6 linked regions of the Homo sapiens genome follow. The protein of the gene in region 4 interacts with the protein of the main gene of each other region in a pairwise test. Each region holds a gene or a part of one and is shown on either strand. Other genes may lie near its edges.

Evidence for each region.
Region 1: the proteins of FUNDC2 (region 4) and NSF interact in a two-hybrid assay, tested with the Homo sapiens proteins (one large-scale study listed by BioGRID and IntAct).
Region 2: the proteins of FUNDC2 (region 4) and USP13 interact in a two-hybrid assay, tested with the Homo sapiens proteins (one large-scale study listed by BioGRID and IntAct).
Region 3: the proteins of FUNDC2 (region 4) and NUDT21 interact in a two-hybrid assay, tested with the Homo sapiens proteins (one large-scale study listed by BioGRID and IntAct).
Region 5: the proteins of FUNDC2 (region 4) and ARL15 interact in a two-hybrid assay, tested with the Homo sapiens proteins (one large-scale study listed by BioGRID and IntAct).
Region 6: the proteins of FUNDC2 (region 4) and RGS1 interact in a two-hybrid assay, tested with the Homo sapiens proteins (one large-scale study listed by BioGRID and IntAct).

The regions. Positions count from the first base shown.
Region 1 is NC_000017.11:46,639,169-46,642,668, reverse strand, and holds part of NSF (vesicle-fusing ATPase), read right to left. Parts: intron 2,616-3,500; coding exon 2,508-2,615; intron 2,027-2,507; coding exon 1,951-2,026; intron 1-1,950.
Region 2 is NC_000003.12:179,740,040-179,743,539, forward strand, and holds part of USP13 (ubiquitin carboxyl-terminal hydrolase 13), read left to right. Parts: intron 1-207; coding exon 208-333; intron 334-2,157; coding exon 2,158-2,311; intron 2,312-3,500. UniProt on the Homo sapiens protein: Deubiquitinase that mediates deubiquitination of target proteins such as BECN1, MITF, SKP2 and USP10 and is involved in various processes such as autophagy, endoplasmic reticulum-associated degradation (ERAD), cell cycle progression or DNA damage response.
Region 3 is NC_000016.10:56,434,333-56,437,832, forward strand, and holds part of NUDT21 (cleavage and polyadenylation specificity factor subunit 5), read right to left. Parts: intron 498-3,500; coding exon 422-497; intron 114-421; coding exon 1-113. UniProt on the Homo sapiens protein: Component of the cleavage factor Im (CFIm) complex that functions as an activator of the pre-mRNA 3'-end cleavage and polyadenylation processing required for the maturation of pre-mRNA into functional mRNAs.
Region 4 is NC_000023.11:155,047,344-155,050,843, reverse strand, and holds part of FUNDC2 (FUN14 domain-containing protein 2), read right to left. Parts: intron 1-3,500. UniProt on the Homo sapiens protein: Binds directly and specifically 1,2-Diacyl-sn-glycero-3-phospho-(1'-myo-inositol-3',4',5'-bisphosphate) (PIP3) leading to the recruitment of PIP3 to mitochondria and may play a role in the regulation of the platelet activation via AKT/GSK3B/cGMP signaling pathways.
Region 5 is NC_000005.10:54,304,074-54,307,573, forward strand, and holds part of ARL15 (ADP-ribosylation factor-like protein 15), read right to left. Parts: intron 1-3,500.
Region 6 is NC_000001.11:192,574,308-192,578,572, reverse strand, and holds the start of RGS1 (regulator of G-protein signaling 1), read right to left. Parts: upstream 2,801-4,265; 5' UTR 2,781-2,800; coding exon 2,644-2,780; intron 2,289-2,643; coding exon 2,208-2,288; intron 1,800-2,207; coding exon 1,738-1,799; intron 352-1,737; coding exon 188-351; intron 1-187. UniProt on the Homo sapiens protein: Regulates G protein-coupled receptor signaling cascades, including signaling downstream of the N-formylpeptide chemoattractant receptors and leukotriene receptors. Inhibits B cell chemotaxis toward CXCL12.

The sequences.
Region 1 (3,500 bases), on a different chromosome or scaffold from region 4:
TAAGCTTATACAGGTAATTGGGCATATAACCCCTCAGCCTAAGGAAATATACTGAACAAGTTTGATGTCTTCTTTGCTTTCTCTTCACTTGGACACAAAAGTCTGAAATCATCCTAAAGACTTCAATGATTACAAAACTCATGTTTAAAAATTCTCAAGAGGACAAAAATTATCTAACTTAAATGTCAGAGTGCCACCTAAAGTAACTCAAGAGAACCACATTTACTATTTCAAACAAAGAATAAATTAAGTACCTTAGTATGCTCTATTATAAACAAAAAATAAAGTAATAATATGGTTTTTATAAAACCAGGGAAGAAAATGTCACATTAAAAAAAGTTTATCCTAAGAAATGCTAAATATTTGAGGTGATATGTTAATTAGGCTGATTTGATCATTCTACAATGTATACATGTATTAAAATATCAAATTGTACCCTATAAATATATACAATTATTATCTGTCAATTAAAAATAAAGTAACGCTTTTTAAAAGTTTATACTAGATGATAATTTTATGGTTAGAGTTTTGAGGCCTTAAGATTTCCTTTGGAAAGCGATGAAAAATATTTTTTTCTTACACTCTACTGCCCTCTTGTGGGCAAAATTTACTGAATGCCAATTAACTACACAATTTTTTTCCCATGGATTACTTAGAAATACCTATGAAAGTTATGCAACTCCCTTGGGATATCTTAACAAAAGGTACACAAAAATAAAATACAAAGAAGTCACTTCATAAATGTACTAGATCAATAACAGGAAAATACATCCTACCTTCATAAAATGACATACAGGCATTAAAAATCATGTTATAGGTGTATATTTAAGATGTTTGAAACATGCTAAGCAAAAAAAGCAAATTACAAAACTATGAAAACAGAACCAAATTTTACAGTGTGTGAATTGTTTTCGAATGCCTATCCATATTTTATAAATAAAATATTTTATAATTAACAAAAAACAATAAGGGGGAATGGTAATTTGTGGACCAGGAAATAAAGGCCACGCACTCAAAGACTGTTAAGTGACCCTGGACATGATGATGTGCAACCAATGAAAACCCTCTACTCTCTAGTAGGGTAGACATCAACATAGTTAAATCAACCAAAAATAAGAATTAATGCCCAGTTAATGTCACATTATTCTGGTGAGTTACTATTCTCAGAGAATAAGCTGCAATTGTTTTAATATGACAAAAATTGTGCTAGAGTACAAGAGTAGGACTGAACCATGAATCTGCTGGGAAGACTTGACCTGCACATTCATCACTTAATCACTAAAAGAAATGATGATGCTATCTCATTTAACACAAAACCAAGTGAGGGGCATTCTACAAAATAACTGACCAGTTCTCAAAGTCATAAAAGACAAAGTCTGAGGAACTGTCAGTGACTGAAGAAAACTCAAAAGACAGAACAACTAAATGCAATATGGGATCCTAAATTAGATCTTGGAACAGAAAAGGACACAATGGAAAAACTGGTGAAATCTCAATAAAATCTGTAGTTTAGTTAGCAGAAATGAAACCATGTTCATTTCTTATCATTGTACTTTTGAAAATGTCAAATAAGACATTAACATCAGGGTAAGCTGGTAAAGGGCATACAGAAATTCTCTGAGCTATTTCTGCAAATCTGTGAACCTAAAATTATCTCAAAATTAAAAGTTAAAAAATTAATTTGTTTCTTATTTTAGTGCAATTTCTAGGAAATTAAAAATTACACATGTGGCTCACACTCTATTTCTATTGGACAAAGTTGATCCAGATGAAGGTTTTAAACGTTTTCATCAGCAAACTGACCAACAGGAAATACCCCATGCTTCTGTGATAAACTCTCTCAAGAGAGATGCCCCTCTTTCCTTTCCCCATTTGGAAATCACTGTAGTTGAGTTACATATAGAAATAGGCCCACTTCATTTCAAATCTTCTAAAAACTGTAAATCTTACCAATAAGATTAAGTGACGAATTTTCTGCTTTTTCAAATGCAACTTGACTGTTTCCAACAACCAGTCCTACTTCAATCTGTAGAGAAAGACAATAATTAGTAGTCTAATAGCAAACTTCTGGACTTCTCAAAGCAAGGCCAAAAGTGAGGGGGAAATGAGGTCTCTCTGGGCAAAGCAAACCTTCCAGACTATCATCTGAGCTACTTTTACTTTTCTCATAACTTTCTTCTACAATTCTTACATGCCTTATTTCCATGCCTATATCTTTCCAATAATGCGTTTCTTATTATTTATTTACAATAAATATCTGCATTCAAGCAAATTATATGTACATATACGTCTACATTTTACATTAATATTAGGTCTGCAAATAAATACATTTTAAGCTATATTTTAATAACAATGATGGCTATGAAAGCAATTTTTTCTCCCTACTATCTTAAAAGGGTACACAATATGAAAAAAATCACTAAGCAACAGATAGGAAAATTATAATCAATCTGCACAAATTACATTATAAAGATGATCTAGTAAAGATGATCAGAAATAAAAGCTACCTTCTGCCTTTTCCCTGTCGCAGGCTCTCCCTTCAGGATGCTAGGATCCATGGCTTCAATGTCCTTCACCAGTAAGCCAAAAAGCTTTTCATTGAAGCTAAAGACAAGCTATGTAGAAAAGAGGTAAGGGGAGAAAAATCACTTCATAATATAATAGTTTGATCCTCAGATCATCACCAATGTTTTTCAAATGCAGAAAACCAGTTTATCTTATATACTCCTCTCCAATCTGCTCCTCAAACAAACTACTCACAGCCAATGAAGAAAAGGGAATTAGCACTTACGATCAGTGTTTACAAAATGACTGCAAAACTCATGTTTAAAATTTCTTCCACATGGATAAAAAATATCTAATTTAAATGTCAGAGTGCCACCTAAAGTAATTCAAGAGTACCACATTTACTATTTCTAACAAAGAATAAAGTTTCTTAGTATTTTATTCAAACACTACAGCCAGTTATATAATATTCACAAACACTCTTGGAAGCAGAAACTACGACTCCATTTTACTAGTGAGGAAGCTGAGATGCAGAAACAGGCTATGCAACAAGGCTCAAAGTCACAGTAAATGAGAGCGCCAGAAGTCAACCCTGGGTCTGTGACTCTACAATTCCTGCTTTTCTATCACTAGTACAAAATGCTTGCCCTACAAGTGCAGAGACAGCTTCTGAATGCTCAATTACTCATTCACCAAATCTTTGCTGAGTCCCTTCTAAAAGTTTGGTCTTCTTCTATGTGCTGGGGTATAATGGTAAATATTACAGGTTGGGCTGTCTGTCCATTCTGCTACTACGAGATACCACAAATGAGAAGAAACAGTTAAGGACAGTGATCTGGAGTAAGATATTTACTTCTTCTCTGAATTACGAAAGATTCTCTTTCATGGATTTACTGACTTCTACATGCTACTGAGTTTTAAATTATTATAAATACCAAAGCATTTTCTATTAAACATTCTCCTAAACATTTTCTATTAGGATACTAAAACTAAAA
Region 2 (3,500 bases), on a different chromosome or scaffold from region 4:
TCCTGTGTTCTTCATAAGGTTCATAGTGCAGGGCCTGGCACATAGTAAACACCCAGCGAGTATTGGCCACTATCATTATTTACCTTCTTTGGGCTGTAGTTTTCTCATCTGGAAAGTGGAGTTTATGGTGGGTTCTGCTCTGCTTGCCGCTTAGGGCTGTTAATTTGCATGAAAGTATCATAAGTCCATTTCATTTTTATACATTAGCCACAGCAGAACGGGATCTCTCCGCGCATGTTTAAGGCCTTTGTAAGCAAGAGCCACCCGGAATTCTCCTCTAACAGGCAGCAAGATGCCCAGGAATTCTTCTTGCACCTGGTGAATCTAGTAGAGGTGAGTAGTCAGTCTTCACGGATGCTCAGCGGGGTTGTAAGAGGGTGCCGAGCCACTCAGTGCAGTCTGCTGTGGCTTGATCAGAATGCCTCCCCACTCTCTTTCTTCAATCTCTCCTGTTAAAGCTGGTTCAGAATCAGATCCCTGGAAACTCTCTGCTCAGCCAACTTGATGTGACTGCTCTTCACACTCCAGTTTCCAGACACTTGTGGATCTCTGTGCTTCTTTTAACCTGTATGTGTTATAGGAGTGCTTGCCAGTTATTCCATTCACAATTTATTTTTTTCTGGTCTTTGTGACAAAGTTCCTTAAGAGCCCTGCGTGGTATTTGGTGTCCTCCTGCCACTGCTCAAAGATGATGAGTCTGCTTACATCAGAATCGAATGCCATTAAAAACTTTTTTTTTTTTTTTGAGACTGAGTCTAGCTCTGTTGCCCAGGCTAGAGTGCAGTGGCACAATCTTGGCTCACTGCAACCTCTGCCTCCTGGGTTCAAGCAATTCTACTGCCTCAGCCTCCTGAGTAGCTGGGATTATAGGAGCCTGCCACCACGCCCGGCTAATTTTTGTATTTTTAGTAGAGATGGGGTTTCACCATGTTGGTCAGGCTGGTTTTGAACTCCTGACCTTGTGATCCACCCGCCTCGGCCTCCCAAAGTGCTGGGATTACAGGTGTGAGCTGGAAAGCCACTGAGAATTCCTGAGTAAAGCCTTTTTTTTTTTTCCTGGTTACAACAGTGTTCTTTGTGGAAAATATAGAAAACACAAAGGAGAACATCAAAATCCCCCTTAATGCCACGCCCTGCAGCCAGCCAGTGTTTTTTGTTTGTTTGTTTGTTTGTTTGTTTTTGTTTGTTTGTTTTTGACAGAGTCTTGCTCTTGTCGCCCAGGCTGGAGTGCAGTGGCACGATCTTGGCCCACTGCAACCTCCGCCTTGCAGGTTCAAGTGATTCTTCTGTTGTTTGTTTCCTTGTTAGAACTAGGCTGCAGTGGTTTCTCTTGTCTGCCTCAGGGTTACTGATTCACATGTCTGCTCAGGTCCATGATCTTTTCTAACTCTGTTTATCATTTATTAGTGATAACTTTTTTTTTTTAGAATAAAGCCTCCCGAGTAGCTGGGATTATAGGCACCCACTACCATGCCTGGCTAATTTTTTTGTATTTTTAGTAGAGACGGGGTTTCACCATGTTGGCCAGGCTGGTCTCGAACTCCTGACCTCAGATGATCCACCCGCCTCCGCCTCCCAAAGTGCTGGGATTACAGGCATGAGCCACTGTGCCCGGCCAACAGCCAGTGTTCACAGGTTGGCATCTGCCCCTCCCATCACTTTCCAGGTCTTATGTTAATTCTCTACATGCTCTTCTGTAAGCAGTGTTTTCACTTAAATGTTTGCCACATCATCACATCTGTTAACAGAGCATAATTTCTGTTTTATTTGTACCTAATTTACATGAGTGTATTTATATAATCATATTGTACATGTTTTTATGTTTCCAGGGCAGCCCTTTATTTTTTTCCCTTTCTCTTTTGATTGGCTTCTCCTCCTCCTTTCTTCTCATTCCATGAATTTCTCTCCCATGGTTTTTAATTTAATAATATTGAAATAGTAATCCATGATGAACTATATTTTATTTTACCAATCCCCATTTTTGGACTTTAGATAAATTCCAGTGTTTTTCTATTAAAGTGCTTTGGTGAATGGGCATGGCCAGAGGAAATGTTTAATAAAGCCAAGTGTTTACACCGGGTTTAGAGTTCATTTTCTACTAAGTCTTAGTGGCTCAATATTCATACATTTACTAACCTGATACAATCCATCCTTCAGAGGAACCGCATCGGCTCAGAAAACCCAAGCGATGTTTTTCGTTTTTTGGTGGAAGAACGCATTCAGTGCTGTCAGACCCGGAAAGTCCGCTACACGGAGAGGGTGGATTACCTGATGCAGTTACCTGTGGCCATGGAGGCGGCAACCAACAAGGGTAACAATTCCAAAGCGGGAAATTGGTACTGTGTGTCTTCATATGGGAAAACCCTCAAATCAGAGAGAATGGTTTAGTCACTGAAGTGTGTCAGGAGTAGACCCAGCCCAGGTGATGTCTGCTTTGCACATCTCTTTTCATCTCTTTGTTAGTTCCCATGTGACTTTTCCTTTGAGAAGAATCAAATGCATCACAGGTTTTATGGAGGCGTTATGGTTGGAACCTACGTCACTGCCTATAAATTTGGCCAACTACTGAATATGGAGTCAGCATAATTTTGGGGAAAATTATTGGTAATGATGTATGTAGAAAATTCTTTAACACTGTCATTTATAAGTTGTGCTATAAAGTCTGAGGGAAATGATCAGGACTGCATTTTTTAAAGTTAGACATTCGAGCAGAGGTCTCTTGAAATAATCCAGCTTTGGCACATGAGTATTTGAGCCACCTCTTCTGGGAGATAAATTGTGTCAGGGTTCTTTGTAGAAGCAAAGCCCATTAGAAGGGTCTCTGGGCTTTGGAAGAGAGAAGGAGGCAGAGATGTGGCACTCATGTTTGGTGCCTTCTCCTTCCATCAGTCTAAGCTGGTTCTTCCTAGGCAGAATAGACAAATGGCATTTCTTCGAATTAACATCGTAGAAGCAAAAAAGACAAAATAGCTGCTGGATTGTGCATCTCCTGTGAACTAGTCATTTTTGTAAAGTTCAGCAATTCCACTATGCAGCCATGAAAAGGAATGAGATCATGTCCTTTGCACATGGATGAAGCTGGAAGCCCTCATCCTCAGCAAACTAACACAGGAACAGAAACCAAACACCGCATATTCTCACTCATAAGTGCGAGTTGAACATTGAGAACATATGGACACAGGGAGGGGAACATCACACACTGAGGCCTGTTGGTGGGTGGGGGGAAAGGGGAGAGAACTTAGAGGACAGGTCAGTAGGTGCAGCAAACCGCCACGGCACACATATACTTATGTAACAGACCTGCACGTTCTACACATGTATCCTGGAGTTTTTTTGTTTTTTGTTTTTTTTTTTGAGAATAAAGAAAAAAAAATTCAGCGGTTCCCTGGATGGCCCTTTTTGCTCTTTCTTGTGTGTGGGGGGTGGTGGGTCAGTTTATGATGTTAGTTGGAAAGTGATGATTATGATGATTTAAGATGAAACGATTTTCATTTTCTATA
Region 3 (3,500 bases), on a different chromosome or scaffold from region 4:
GCTCAACAGCTGAGGGAGACTAGAAATGATGGGTCCATATCCTGGTGCATTGTCATACAATTCAAACAATGGTGCAGCTACCAGCTTGTAATTTTTAGGGACTGCAAACAAGGCTAAAATAAAACAGAATTCATTATTATAAGTTATTATATAATCACTGCTTCCATTTCATTTTTAAATTACCAATTTTACATTTAATAAAAAGTGTAAGAAAAAAGATAATTCTCATTAATACATTTTGGTTGTGTCTTTCAAGGTAGATTTCCTAGCCACAGATTTGAAACTAAAAGCATGGTATACATCTTTAGTTTTACAACAAACCCAAAAGTTCAAGGAACTTTGAGAAAACACAAATAGAGGTATCCTTGAAATTATTCTACAGAATTTTTAGATGGCTACCTTTGAAAACAAAATAACTTACCTTTTTCTTGAAGCTGAACCAGAAACAACTTCTTATGTTCCTTAGGCTTTGTAATATGTGCAGGAATATATGGATACTGAAATTACAAATGAATACAACTTTAATATGTATTCCATGGCTTCATTTCTTTACATGTTTACTCCCCAGTATAGTATAAACTGTTGGGAGAAGCATACTACTTTCTGTCCTCTTTACCAGGACTTATCTAACAGATACACTAGTAAATAAATGCTTTAATGCATATAAAATAACAAGCAGTAAACCAGTCAACCATTCGAGATAAAATATGTAGTCACAGGATTTATAGCTTGAGATACTTAAAACATAATGAAGTCCGATTTTAATTAGTATCTTTAATAAAAGCTTTTTTTTGTTTGTTTGTTTTTTAAGACAGAGTTTTGCTCTTGTTGCCTAGGCTGGAGTGCAATGGCGCAATCTCGGCTCACCACAACCTCTGCCTCCCAGGTTCAAGTGATTCTCCTGCCTCAGCCTCCTGAGTAGCTGAGATTACAGGCATGCGCCACCATGCCTGGCTAATTTTGTATTTTTAGTAGAGGCAGGGTTTCTCCAGGCTAGTCTTGAACTCCCGACCTCAGGTGATCCACCTGCTCTGGCCTCCCAAAGTGCTGGGATTACAGGCATCAGCCACCATGCCCAGCCTAAAAGCTGGTTTTTTAAAAATATATATATAGGCTGGGCACAGTGGCTCACGCCTGTAATCGCAGCACTTTGGGAGGCCAAGGCAGGCGGATCATGAGGTCAGGAGATCAAGACCATCCTGGCTAGCACAGTGAAATCCCGTCTCTACTAAAAATACAAAAAATTAGCCAGGCGTGGTGGCGGGCGCCTGTAGTCCCAGCTACTCGGGAGGCTGAGGCAGGAGAATGGCGTGAACCTGGGAGGCAGAGCTTGCAGTGAGCCGAGACTATGCCACTGCACTCCAGCCTGGGCAACAGAGTGAGACTCTGTCTCCCAAAAAAAAAAAAAAATTATATATATATATATATATATATATATATATATATATATATGATCAGTAAGTTAAACAGTCTAGAATCCTGTTGTAGACCTGTTTACATTAAAAATTCAAATATAAGCTGTGAGGCATTTGACAAGATGCTTCTTGCTCCTCCTTCCAGCCCCAACCTCAAACCTCCCCGTATGCCAAGGTGCATGCTTCAGGAATACCAGAAGAGCAGTCTAAGTGAAGTTTTGCCAGATGGGCAAAGCCAAATTACTCGAGGAAACAAATATAAAAATATATATATAATATATATGTATATTTTAGAGAATTTAAAGGGATGAAGAGAATTAGAGAGGGAAGTTGCTACCCGGGAAGGAAAAATTCTGACACAGAACAAAAAAAAAGTCTAAGGGTTATACAATTCTTGTATAAATCTCTCCACAATACATTCAGAAATCTACTTTTGCTGTTGGAGTTGTATCTGAGAGCTGGGGAATTTAAAATTGCTGAAAACAGATATAAGGGGAAAGTGAGATAAAAGCAGAAGCTGCCAAAAGGAGGTATTAGCATCATCCTCAATTTACACAGAATCACATGCTAAGAGAGGCTAAGTATCTTTCCCAAGATTACTCAGCCAAGTTGTGAAGCCAAGATTTAACTGTATCTATTCAACTCTTATCTAATTATAAAAGCCTATGTTATTTCCCACTGTGTTACTCATTGGCACCTAACCAGTATTCCAGTTAGAATAATTATATATCAGAGCCATCCCTAGGGTACAATGAATTGAGGCAATTGTCCCAGGCTTTGGAGGTTCCTTAAACTGTCATGAAAACCAGATACATTAACAGTCACAGAGAAAGTGGCCTGAATAGCACAAGCTAAGAGATCTGTGGATCACATACAATAAAAGTTCCCAAACCATGATCAAACAAAATGAGTAGCATTTCCCCAAATTTCTTCTGCTCAAGGCTACATGTTCCTATTTTTTTAAGCCTTTCTTCTCTGGTCTTAATGTTTAAGTTGACTGTACTTTATACAAAAAGACTGAGATAGGAAGATGATATGCTCCTTTTCCACTGACATCTAACTAATACTCTAGGCTTCCTAAATAAATCAATACACTTACCTTATGTCAAATACCACCAGGGCCAACTCTAGGCCTTACTGAATGAAGAGAACTGTCCTAGGACAGTGGTAGGGGAGATGAGTGAAGATATTCAGAAAAGTTATCTGGAAAACCACTGGGGTCACTACTAAGCATTTTCCAATTAGATCAAGGCATGTTCAGGAAGCCAAAAAAAAGTTTAGAATAACTGTACTATGTATCTTTGAACAAGTAACTTCACTGTTTCCATATGAAATTGTTCTTCCTTAAAGCCAAGATGTGTTCCTGGCAATTCTTAGGTAGTGAACACCAGCATCAGCTTCCACAGCCCCTATCTTCTTGTCCCTCTGCCATACAAGGGAGTCAGAAGCAAGAGAAAAGAACGATCTTTTGCTTGGTTGATATTTTGTGCAATGCTTGACCTGAAACATCTTGTCATGTAAAGGAGCTATAAAGTCATAGGGCTTTTTAATTTGCCTAAAGAATTCAGGATCCAACTTTAAGAAGTTCCACCATTAGCAAAAATAGGAATATTTGAGCATCAGTAACATCATCACTCATTATCATGGATTAAAATATTTCAAATTATTTAAATCCAAAAGGTCATACTGACACTTTAAAGGTCACTGAAACATGCTTTTTGTGTGTGTGTGCCCCACATTACGCTACCTCTGATTTCGGGGCAGCTATGTTTGAAAAGTATCAGAGGGTTCCCTGTTTGCTGCCACTGTCTCAACAAGCACTCAAGACTCAACATGGAAATGCAAGGGAGTTCATGCAACCCTTATCCAATGGGGTATAGGAGTCCCTACATGGTTCCTGGTCCTTAACAGAACAAATCCAGTTGCCCACAGGTGTAAAAAGATCAATAACATGCCCTGTCTTACTTCTGCTGCTTCTGGTCTCTCTCTCCCCTGTATTCTGCTGCTTCCTGGAATCACCTCTCAAACTGCCTGTACCCAAGTCTTGGTCTTACCCTCTCTTTTGAATAAAGTCAAGTCTTTAGA
Region 4 (3,500 bases):
GTGATGTGTATCATAAACAAAACATTGATACTCAAAAAAGTGAACTTCTTATAGAGATCAGTAAGAAAGTTCACTTTAAAAATGGGTAAGGGCAATTCAGAGGAAAGTGTCCACAAAAAGGAAAAAGTTCAACTTCACAAGTAATCAAGCCATAGTACCTTTATTTATGAGTCTATAACTGGAAATACACAAAAGTCTATCAACACATGAATGGATAAACAAATTGTATCATATTTACACAATAGAATATTACTTAGTACTAAAAAGAACAAATTACTTACAGCAACCACATAGTTGAGTATCAACATTTGTATCTAAAAGAAGGCTCTGGTTCATTTACTCCACCCTGTTTATCCCACAAAATCCTGCTATTAAACTGAGAGAATACATGGACTAGCTATTTGAAGGCTCTTACATAAAAACAGCGACGTGCAGATTGGAGAAGACCAGAATTCAAAGCACCACCAAACTGGTGGCGTGTTTCCTGCTTTTCCTGCAGTATCGCCTGGCCTAACCTCAAGGCAGGACTCAAGAAACATCTGACAAAATTCAACGCAAATTCATGATAAAACTCTCAGAGAAAGAGCAATAGAGGGGAACTTCCTCAACTTGATAAAGAACATCTACATAAAAAACCCTGCAGCTAACACTGTACAGAATGGTGAAAGAACGAATGCAGGGAACAAGGCAAAGCTGTCCGCCGTCTCCACTCCTATTAAATATCGTACCAGAAGTGAATTCAGAGTCAGCACAACAAGGCAAGAAAAAGAATTAGGAGGCATCCTGATTCACAAGGAAGAGGTCAAACTGTCTCCAATCATAGACATCTTTGTCTACATAGAAAATTTCATAGACTTCAACAAAAAACAAAAACTCCTAGACTAAAAAAGTGAGTTTAGCAGGGTCACAGGACACAAATTCACACAAAACCAACTGAATTTCTATATGCTAGCAATTTGAACTGGAAATGAAAAATGTTTAAATGATTTACAACAATGGGTGCAAAAAATAATTAAATATTAGGTACAAATCAAATAAAACATACAGGATCTGTATACTGAGAACTACAAAATGCTGAAGAAAGAACTCAAAGACAACCTAAATAAATGGAGAGACACATCATGTACATGGAATGGAATACTCAACACAGAAATGATGCCCAGTTCTCTCCAAATTATCCATAGATTTACTGCAATCCCAAATCACAAATCCCAGTAGGATTTCTTATAGATACATAAATAAGCCGGTTCTAAGATTTATATGGAAAGGCAAAGGAACTGGAATCACCAAAATGAATCTGAAAAAGAACAGAGTTGGGGAAATCACACTACCTGATTTAAGATTTACTATAATGCTACAGTAGTCAAGACAGTGTGTCATACTGAAGAAGAGATAGACACACAGACCAACAGAACAGAATAAAAAGTACAGAAACGGACGTGGACAACTACAACAAACTGATTTTTCACAAGGGGGCAAAAGTAGTAATGGTGGTGGTGAAGTCCCCTGGGTGGCCCAGGCCAGGATTGCGAGGTGACTTCCTGCTCTCCTTGGCATTACTGGGGGACTGCACTGCAGGGGCAAAGCAACACCAGAACTGGGAAAAGCAGCCTCTCCCGCTGCAAGGTCCCTCCAGCGCCCTCTACTGACAAAGCTCAACATCCTACTTCCATTGCAGCACAACAAGTAGAGGGAGCCGAATAAACTGAAAACTGGCAAGCGTTGCTGCTGGGCTCTGAAAGCTGCAAAAAGTGCTGGAAATGATCTACAGCTTGGTAAGAAAAAGCAACTACATTCATAAAGACGTGAAGGAAAAATTTCACTGTTCACAGATGGCATAAAAAGATTTTATAGACAAAACCCAAAAGAATCCCAGACAAGACTTTTTTAACAAGGTGGCTGGCTGAAAGAGCAACATAAAATATCAACTGTATTTCAACACACTAGCATGAATCAGAATGTGTAGTTTTAAAAATCGTATCATCCACAAGAGCAACTAAAGTTATAAGGTATCCAGGAATAAAACTGAATCACAGATGTACAAGATCTATACGGAAAAATAATAAAAAGTCTATTCAAAGGCATTAAAGAAGACCTAAATAATTGGAGAGAAAGCCCGTGTTCACAGATAGAATACTCAATATCATAAGAGATATCTACATGGTTCCAATGCAATTCCGATAAAAATTTCAACAGGATTTTTGAAAATAACTGACAAGTCTGATCTAAAATTTAGATGAATGAGCAGAAACACAAAAGTAGCTGCAACACTCCTGAAGAATAAGGTGGAGGAATTTGCATTACCAAATATTAAGCTTTAGTACTGTCATAAAGATCGAAAGTTGACCAGTGGAACAGAACACAGAAACCAGAGTCACAGCCACACATACATGGGTTCTGATATATGAAAGAGACAATGCTGCAAATGTTGGGAAAGGGAAGAATTATTCACTAAATTCTGCTCAATTATCAGTATGGAAAAAAGGAAACTGGATCCCTATGTCAAACTATAACTTGTGATATAACTGATCTCCCAACATTATGCTTGCCTCCTGCTCTCACTCCCCTGGTGACAGATAACATGAGTGCCTGCCACAGATTCTCCATGTCTCACCTCTGCAGCAAAGCAGTGTCCCTGTACCCCTTGAATATTGGAATTATCCAACCCCAAAATCTCATTTTGAGGTGCCTTTCTGGAGACATTTTCAATACCAATTATTTCTGTCAGGGCCCCAAAACGAAACAGAGGACACACTCAAATTAAGACATTTCAAAGCAATATTAAAATGTTTATGAAGTTTGGGGCAGCATATAAGGGAAACCACAGGGATAGAGATGTTACTGCACTTCCACCTGAAGGGTCAAGGGGAAGGAGAGAGAGGTGTGAGGAGGGGCCCCACCTTGCAGGGAGTCTGACCTGTCTAGCAACAGAGCCAGCACGTAACAAGCCCACAGGGAAGCAGCCAACAAAAGTGAGGCTTGGGCAACAAAGGAGATGCAACTTGCACCATGTTTCTGCAGAACTGTGCTTGGGAGTCCTGAGGTCATGGTAGTGTGAGGAAGCCTATACTGGCACAGGGACCACATGGAAGAGCACTGAGACTATGGACAGGGGGGAAATAAGGAGAGGAGGAGGGAAGACAAACAGAGACAGAGACACAAAGAGGCCCCACAAGTCCAGACCTACCCTAACCCTCTGATCATCTGGCCTGTAACCACATGAGACTCTGATCCACAAGCACCTACCTTAACCCTCCCCAAACTCCTGTAACCATGAGAGAGAATAAAGTGATCATTATTTGAAGCCATTAGGTTTGGGGGAATTTGTCATGCAGCAATACCACACTCAACCCAGCTACAGCCAGTTACCAGCTTCCCTCTTCGATACATTTGATTTTCACCTGACCTATCTGCAAAACTCACTCCAATCATGGTGCTAATGCAGAACTTACCTTGCAAAAGTGAGGGTTGCCAACTGTGGGAAGAGACAAACGGCTGTG
Region 5 (3,500 bases), on a different chromosome or scaffold from region 4:
AGTAGTGGTCAAGGACCACTTTTCTGTACCTGTTTACTTAAGAAGCAATATACTAAAAATTTTGAGTGCATCCCAACTGCCTTAACACCAAGCTGCCTGAGCCTCTGCCTAGCACAAGGGAACTACTTGTAGGTGGAAGGCAATGAAGAGGGAGGGCCCTGGGGCCACAAGCGCAGTTCAACTACTTGCTAGCTGTGTGAACTTGAGGAAATTACACAACCTCCCTGAGCCTCAGTTTAATGCTATTACACATGCAAAGCACTTAGAACACTGGCACAGAGTAAGTGTTCAATAAATGTTAACTGATTTTGCCCTCCTGATTATAACTCATATACTTATCTCCTCTCACCCCCGACCTGAGCACTGCCCACATGCCAACAAGCATGTGGCTTTGGCATCTTTCAGAATGCAAGCCCCTGGAGGGCATGAATCAAGGTCCCTATGTGTCCTCTCCTAGGGCTCATACTGTTAGACTGGAGCCACAGAAGTTTGGGAACCAGACTTAACACCTTTGTAGAAAAGTTCCTACCTAATGGTACGGATTTGCTCAAAACATTTTTGCTATATGAACTCCATATATGGTAGATCTGTTTATTGTGCTCAGATAATTTTTATCTTATAAATTATTAAGAAAGGAATATTTAATATGACTGCCTAATCCACTCGACATTTAGACTAAAAAGTGACCTACATTATCACTTTAAAGTTAGTCACAATAAATACAACTTACAATGTTCATAGATATTCAGGGTTAAAAACAACGAAACAATGTACTTTTTTTTTTATCAATAAAGAAGTTCAGTTCACAGATAACTGAACATAATATGAAATCACAAATGTACCTTCACTCCTCTTTTCAAGTAGGATCCTTTACAATTTCATAGTGCCTGTGGGCTCTACCCTTTGTAGCACATCATGGGTTTCTATTGTTGGTTAGTTAGCTGGTTTTTATCCTGCAAATGGTGACAGATTTGTGATGATCAACCCAATTCTCTCACCACATCTTCCCCACTGAGACATACATTTTTATGATGGCAGATACAGCCTATAACCAAGAAACTAAATAGGTCAAGTCCACCAGTCTATACAAAGAAATCTTATTAAACTAACCTATCAAATCTAATCTTATTAAATCCCAAACACTGGCAGGGCACGGTGGCTCACTCCTGTAATCCCAGCACTTTGGGAGGTCGAGGCAGGTGGATCACCTGAGGTCAGGAGTTTGAGACCAGCCTGGCCAACATGGTGAAACCCCGTCTCTACTAAACATACAAAAATTAGCTGGGCATGGTGGTGGGCACCTGTAATCCCAGCTACTTAGGAGGCTGAGACAGGAGAATCACCCCATTGCACTCCAGCCTGCATGACAAGAGCAAAACTCTGTCACAAAAAAAAAATAAATAAATAAAAAATCCCCAACACGGTACAGTAGTTTCCCCTCATCCATGGGGGATATATTCCAAGTCCCAGTGGATACCTAAAACCACAGATAGTACTGAGCTATCATAGAACTAACTAACATAGCACAGAGCACACTATATTTTTTCCTATACACACACACCTATGATAAAGTTTAATGTGTAAATTAGGCATAGTAAGTGATTAATAATAACTAATAATAAAAGTGAACAATGATAACAATATACAGTAATAAAAGTTATATGAATGTGGTCTCTCTCTCTCTTAAAATATCTTATTGTACTTTACTCACTTATTTTGAGACCTCGGTGGACCATGGTTAACTGAAACCTTGAAAAGTAAAACCGTGGATGGGAGGGTGGAGGCTACTATAAACAAATGCAATGAATATTAATTGACAATTAGCATCCAAGACTAATCAACCATTTTTACTTGTCACATTTTCAAGTCTAAGTTTATATTTTAGTTCACAATAAAACACACAAAATGAGAGAAATGTACTAGAAAGCAAAGAAGCACATCAGAAGCTACCCCCTCCCCTATGTGCCTTACTTAACCTGTCCTGCCACAGGTTCCTCTAGAGCCACACGACTGCCAGTCCTGCAGTCAAGGAGGATATTACAGCTGAGGGTTCATCCCGCATGACTTTCAGGGCCATGCAGAAAGTAAGGGCTCCATAAATATTTGTTGAATAGATAAATTATTCAAATGGGTTTTATTTTCGTAGCTTTTAAAAGATTCTTAAAAGAGTCTTGTGACTTCCTGCTTGTTGATTACAACTCCCAGTATTTCCATAAATTGAGACTAGTTTAAAAGGTATTTCAATACCACTAAGCAGTAACAGTCATTCTACAGGAGGTATAAAAGTAACATCAGCAACATAATCACAATACGTTAACTTTTTTTTTTTTTTTTTGTCTTGAGACGGAGTCTCACTCTGTCGCCCAGGCTGGAGTGCAGTTGTGCGATCTCACTGCAACCTCTGCCTCCTGGGTTCAAGCGATTCTCCTGCCTCAGCCTCCCAAGTAGCTGAGATTACAGGCATGCGCCACGACACCCAGCTAATTTTTCTATTTTAAGTGGAGATGGGGTTTCTCCATGTCAGCCAGGCTGGTCTCAAACTCCTGACCTCAAGTGATCCGCCTGTCTTGCCCTCCCAAAGTCCTGGGATTACGGGCGTGAGCCACCTCGCCCAGCCACACAATACGTTAACATTTTATATTTGAAAAGCAACGTACTGTTTACAAATGGCTTTCCCTCCACTATCTCATTTAATCATCATAGGTATTACACAGAGTACAACCAATTCTACCACTGTTGTTTTGATGGCGCAGAGGGAAAAAAGGTTAATTCCAGATCAATCATCACATGAGTCAAGACAGAAAATTTTGAACTGAAAGGAATCTAGAAGTTGATCTTGTCCAACCTCCCAGGAAAACTCGAGAAATGTGTTTTTCTCTTTCATTTTAACCTGACTATTTTCTCCTACCTTATCCAAAAAGCTCTGCACATTGTGTTACTAGTTCTACCTATGAGAAGAAAGAGTAAGATGCTGGTACTGCCTGTTGGGACAGCAGCTAAATGTTTACCCAGAGACTTGGCAGATGTAAACATGGCCTTTAAACCCCATCATGGAAAGGGGAAAAGTTGTGTGCCCTTCTAGGAAGATTCACTCATCAACTGGAAAACAGAGATTTTTATGTTTAAATTGCCACCCTGGCTAAAAGGATTATATCTTGATCATCTTCAAGTTAAGAGTAAAGGATACATTCTGCATTCCCCTGAACAAAACACCTAATCCAAACAGATTTTATCTTGTCTCAGTTTAAAAACTGGTGAAAAAAAGCAGAATTTTCCTTTCCATTTCATATTCATCTGATTCAACAAATAAAATATCGGGCCCTAACTATTAATACATGCCAGAAACCAAGTCAGGCACCGCACCAGGTGATACATCTAATTGATTAGGATTAGCAAATTTCTATTCTTTCTCTCGACTGAAATCAATAAAACCCTGTCTTAAATATTAAAGTACTATCCCTGTCCCTCACCTTGACTGTCACTTCTGAGAACATTTGTTT
Region 6 (4,265 bases), on a different chromosome or scaffold from region 4:
TGTGCTGAAACCCTCACCAATATAGAAAATTAGATTCTCATTGCACTGAACTATATTTATATGCCTAAGTATGTAGAAGTAAAATTATATACCCCAAAAGGATTTTATCTTGTTGTATATATTAAATGTTATTTCTGCATATAGGGTCTTTTATGGAGAAACTGATGATGATAAGCTTAATACTCACTTGTTTAGCAGCATCTGAATGCACAAATGCTTTATATATCTCTTCTGCTTTACAGGGCAAAAGATCAGACTCTGTTTTCTTATAGTCTTCACAAGCCAGCCAGAACTCAATATTCTCCTCACTGAATTCAGACTTTAGGAAACTTCCAAAGACATTTTGACCAGCTAAAAAGAAACGAGGGGTGGGTGGGGAGATAATTAAATTAAATGAACCAACAAATGAATAATTTGAAGAAGAAATTTGTAAGAAAAATACAATTGCTTCCTATTCATACAAAGGTAAGAGACAGCTACTGCTGAAATAGCTGTGTTATAGATTGTAGAGATGAGAAGTCATTTGAAATTTCTTCATTCATAGAAGAGGAATCTGGGGCCAGACAAACTCATTCATAGTCACATTGCTACTTGATGGTGGCTACCAAACTGTTTTGCTTCTATCCGCGGTTTGAATTGAAATTCTGCTCCACTGAATATAAAACCATCTTTTATATATGCCAAATCTTAGCCAGAGTAGAGAGTATTTTAGGAAAGCAAACACTGACAAAAGGCATTAACATCACAATAATTAGTAAATATAATTTCCCCATCTAATTTATATTAGCCAGAAAATGTTAGGCCTATATATGATCTGTAGGCCTGATGTACTAATTATGTTTGCTAGCATTCACTGAGACTTTTATATGGCACCATTTATGGTCCATATCTATACCATTTATTTGTTTAGCTGAATTATAAACAAAGTCAGCTGAGCTAGAGTGAACAATGTGATTCCCAAGTAAAGCTCCTTAGGGTGTCTGTGGGGAGAAAAGAATAATCTCACTCTTTAGAGATAGAGACCACACTGCTCATCTACACCTCTGAAAAAGGTCCTAATCTCAGTAGAATTGTAATGCCCAAGACAAGGGGATGGCAAGCTGATTTCATTCTTTACCTTCTCTCATCAGAAAATCTCCACAAGACTATATGTGCTTAAAAATCCTTCTATCATATTTATGTCATAAAAACTATCATGTTATAATAATGCAATTATTTATGTTATGTATCTCAACCACCTTCAAGGCAGTAAGAGACTGTCTTTGATTTTGAATCCTTGGTACCTCTACAATGTCCTCTACATAAGGGTGAGATGAATGATGAATGTATGAAAGATAATTTAATTAATTGAATGAATGAATCATACTTGTTACATCCAAGTGTAGAAAAATACATTCTTTAGGCAGATTTCAAAATGGCAATGTACATATTAAAATATTTGGCTTACTTTTAAAATTTTTACATATCAGAATCCCAGCACAATGTTTAATTTTATCTCCATAATGATCTATGAAAATACCTAATTGTCTTGGCAAATTTGTCTAAAAGGAGTTGGCAGAATTGAGTGCTAAGTCAGCATTATTAAGAGGCATACTATGCTGAAGTTATCAGTAACTACAGACAAACTAGAATACAACCTTTTGCATACTATCCTACCCAGAATACTATATTTAGTGAAGCCATTCAATTTTTTAGAGTATTTAGCTGAACCCAGAAACATTCAATAGTTATACTTACTTTGGTTGGCAAGAAGTTTTTCCAGAGATTGAGACCATTGCATTACTTCAGCAGCAGAAAGTCTGCAGGGGACAAAATGTACATACATTAGTCAATTTTTAAAATGTAAGCACAAATGAAATAAGAATGGCTGTTACACTTTGATAACTTCACAAACTGAAACTGTAGTTCTAATAAATATGTTAAAATTTATTCACAAAATGCAAAACTTCCCTTAGAGTTACTATAGTTATGAAAAAAAAAACCTGCCAATAAAATTTGAAAAAATCCAAATAGATAAAGTCCAATATGTGTGTGTACACATTTGTATTCAATTTACATTGGTACTGATAGTCTAATTTTATTTGGCATGTTACTTAAAAGAAATGAAGTCTACTGTGCGCAGTATTTATCCCTTGCTGGGATATAGAGATAATGCATAGGCTTCTCTTGTAAATGATAATGATAGTTTAGTGTATTAGTGTACTTACACATCCTTGGACTTGGAAGATTTCATTCCAGATTCCAGATGTGGGATCATAGATCTCAGGTATGCTTTCATATCCATTCCACTACAAAAGACATAAAAGTGAATATTCATATTTCTTCAGAATTCATTTTATTTGTAAAAAGACATAGAATAAATTTCTCTAAGGAATAAGGCAATACTAAAAATGGTTGATACAACATTTTGCTATAGAACCCATTTTTATGAGCCTGTGTAGAGAAAAACTCCTACCCAATTTAATGCCATATCAAGATTTATTTTTTAATGCAGCTGAATATTACTTATTACTCACAACAGGCAATTAACTCCTCTGATCTGGCTAAACTAAATGCTCACACTCTCTTCCATTCATTCTCAATCCTTCTGCCATTAAAGATAACTTGTTAAAATTCACAAAGTGAGACTCTGAACAAACTTACAAAGTCTTTGGCCTCCTTTTTTGCATTTTGTCGTCTAGAAGTGAATGAGTGGTTCCTTTCAATTCCTTTGGGTTAGCAGAGAAGAACATTCCTGGCATTTTGTCTAACTTTGGAGTGGAGATGGCTGCTGCGCGCATGGTGCTCTTAGCAAATATGCGCTAGTCAACGTCTCTGCTGCTTTATATAGTAGAATGCAGACAGGCACTTGCTGTTTAAAGGAGTCTGTTTATCAAGTGATGTTACCACAGACACTGGAAGTTCCCCTTTTCTTGGTGTGCTGTGACGTGTATCTTGAAAAAAAAAAAGCATACAGTGGTGTCTTGTGGTTGAAACTTAACCAAACGAGAACAGGTCACTTGATTAGAAAGAAAGAAAATTAAACATACAGAGGTACACACACATATGTCACATGTCTAAAGCATTAACAGCATCAGTCTTTGGTTCTGGAGGATGTTTGTTTATTTTAAAAAAGTTGCATGTTTCAATAAACTGTTTCATTTGGCGTATTAATTTATCATATAGAAACTCACATAGAAATTCATCACATAGAGTTGTATCTTACTCCATGCTTTGGATAGTCCTTGACTATAAAATTCATCTGATCAAAATATTTTAAGAGTTCTCTTCTTTTCTGCAGGAAGCAGGGCAAAGTAAACAAATAATTTTTGTTTAATTATTTTGCACATATCTGATAGGAGGGAAAGTTATAAGAGGCTATCTTCACATTTTCCCACTCCAATTCTCATCCCTTATTTCCATGGCAGGAAATTTCCATGTTAATATTTTCCAAGGTGTGTGCTAGACATCGACTGGCAATACATAGGATGATTTTAAGGGGTGCATGGTTTTTAATATTATTTTCATATTTATTAAGAATATAACTAGTATATCAAACTTTGATTTTTGCATATTTTGCATATTAGGAAAAAATAAAGTTTAATTAAAACCAATCATAAATAAATAAATGTTTAATTGTATACAAATATGACATAATTTGTAAACATACTGATACCAAGGTCACAGTATCAGAGGAAAAACTGCTCAAGGTAAAATAAAAGTCTATTTGGATAGACCAATAATGTGTACTTCTTAGGTAATGATCTTTCACATTTTGGCAGTATCTCTGGAGAGATAACAGTTTTAGCTTTAATTGAGATTAAAGTTTAAAACACAAACAAAACTCAAGGAACTAGATGACTAATCATTTATAAGGATAGAGAAGTTAGTAAAATATAAGCTTTCAAAAGTTTATATAACAAGTGTGGCTTATTTATAGAGTACCCAGTTTAACTTAAGCCTCCTTGGATTTTACCCCTGGAAGGACAATACTTTCCTTTAAAAGGACAAAAAAGCATTTACTTAGTGAAGCTTCTGATGGTATTAGGTAAAGCTGATAAAAGGGAGGGGAGTATTAATTTTTCTGTTCTGGTTCTATCGTCAGGATAAAGAATATTTGAAGAAAACACATTTACAATATTATAAAATTCACTTATACACAGTCATTAATTTCATTATAATGAGCTCATTATATTGTATGTAACAAGCATCATTTTATGTTGGGAAGATAACATAAGGCATTAAGAAAGATAACTGGTGAGATGAGCTGGCCACTTTGGAAGTGA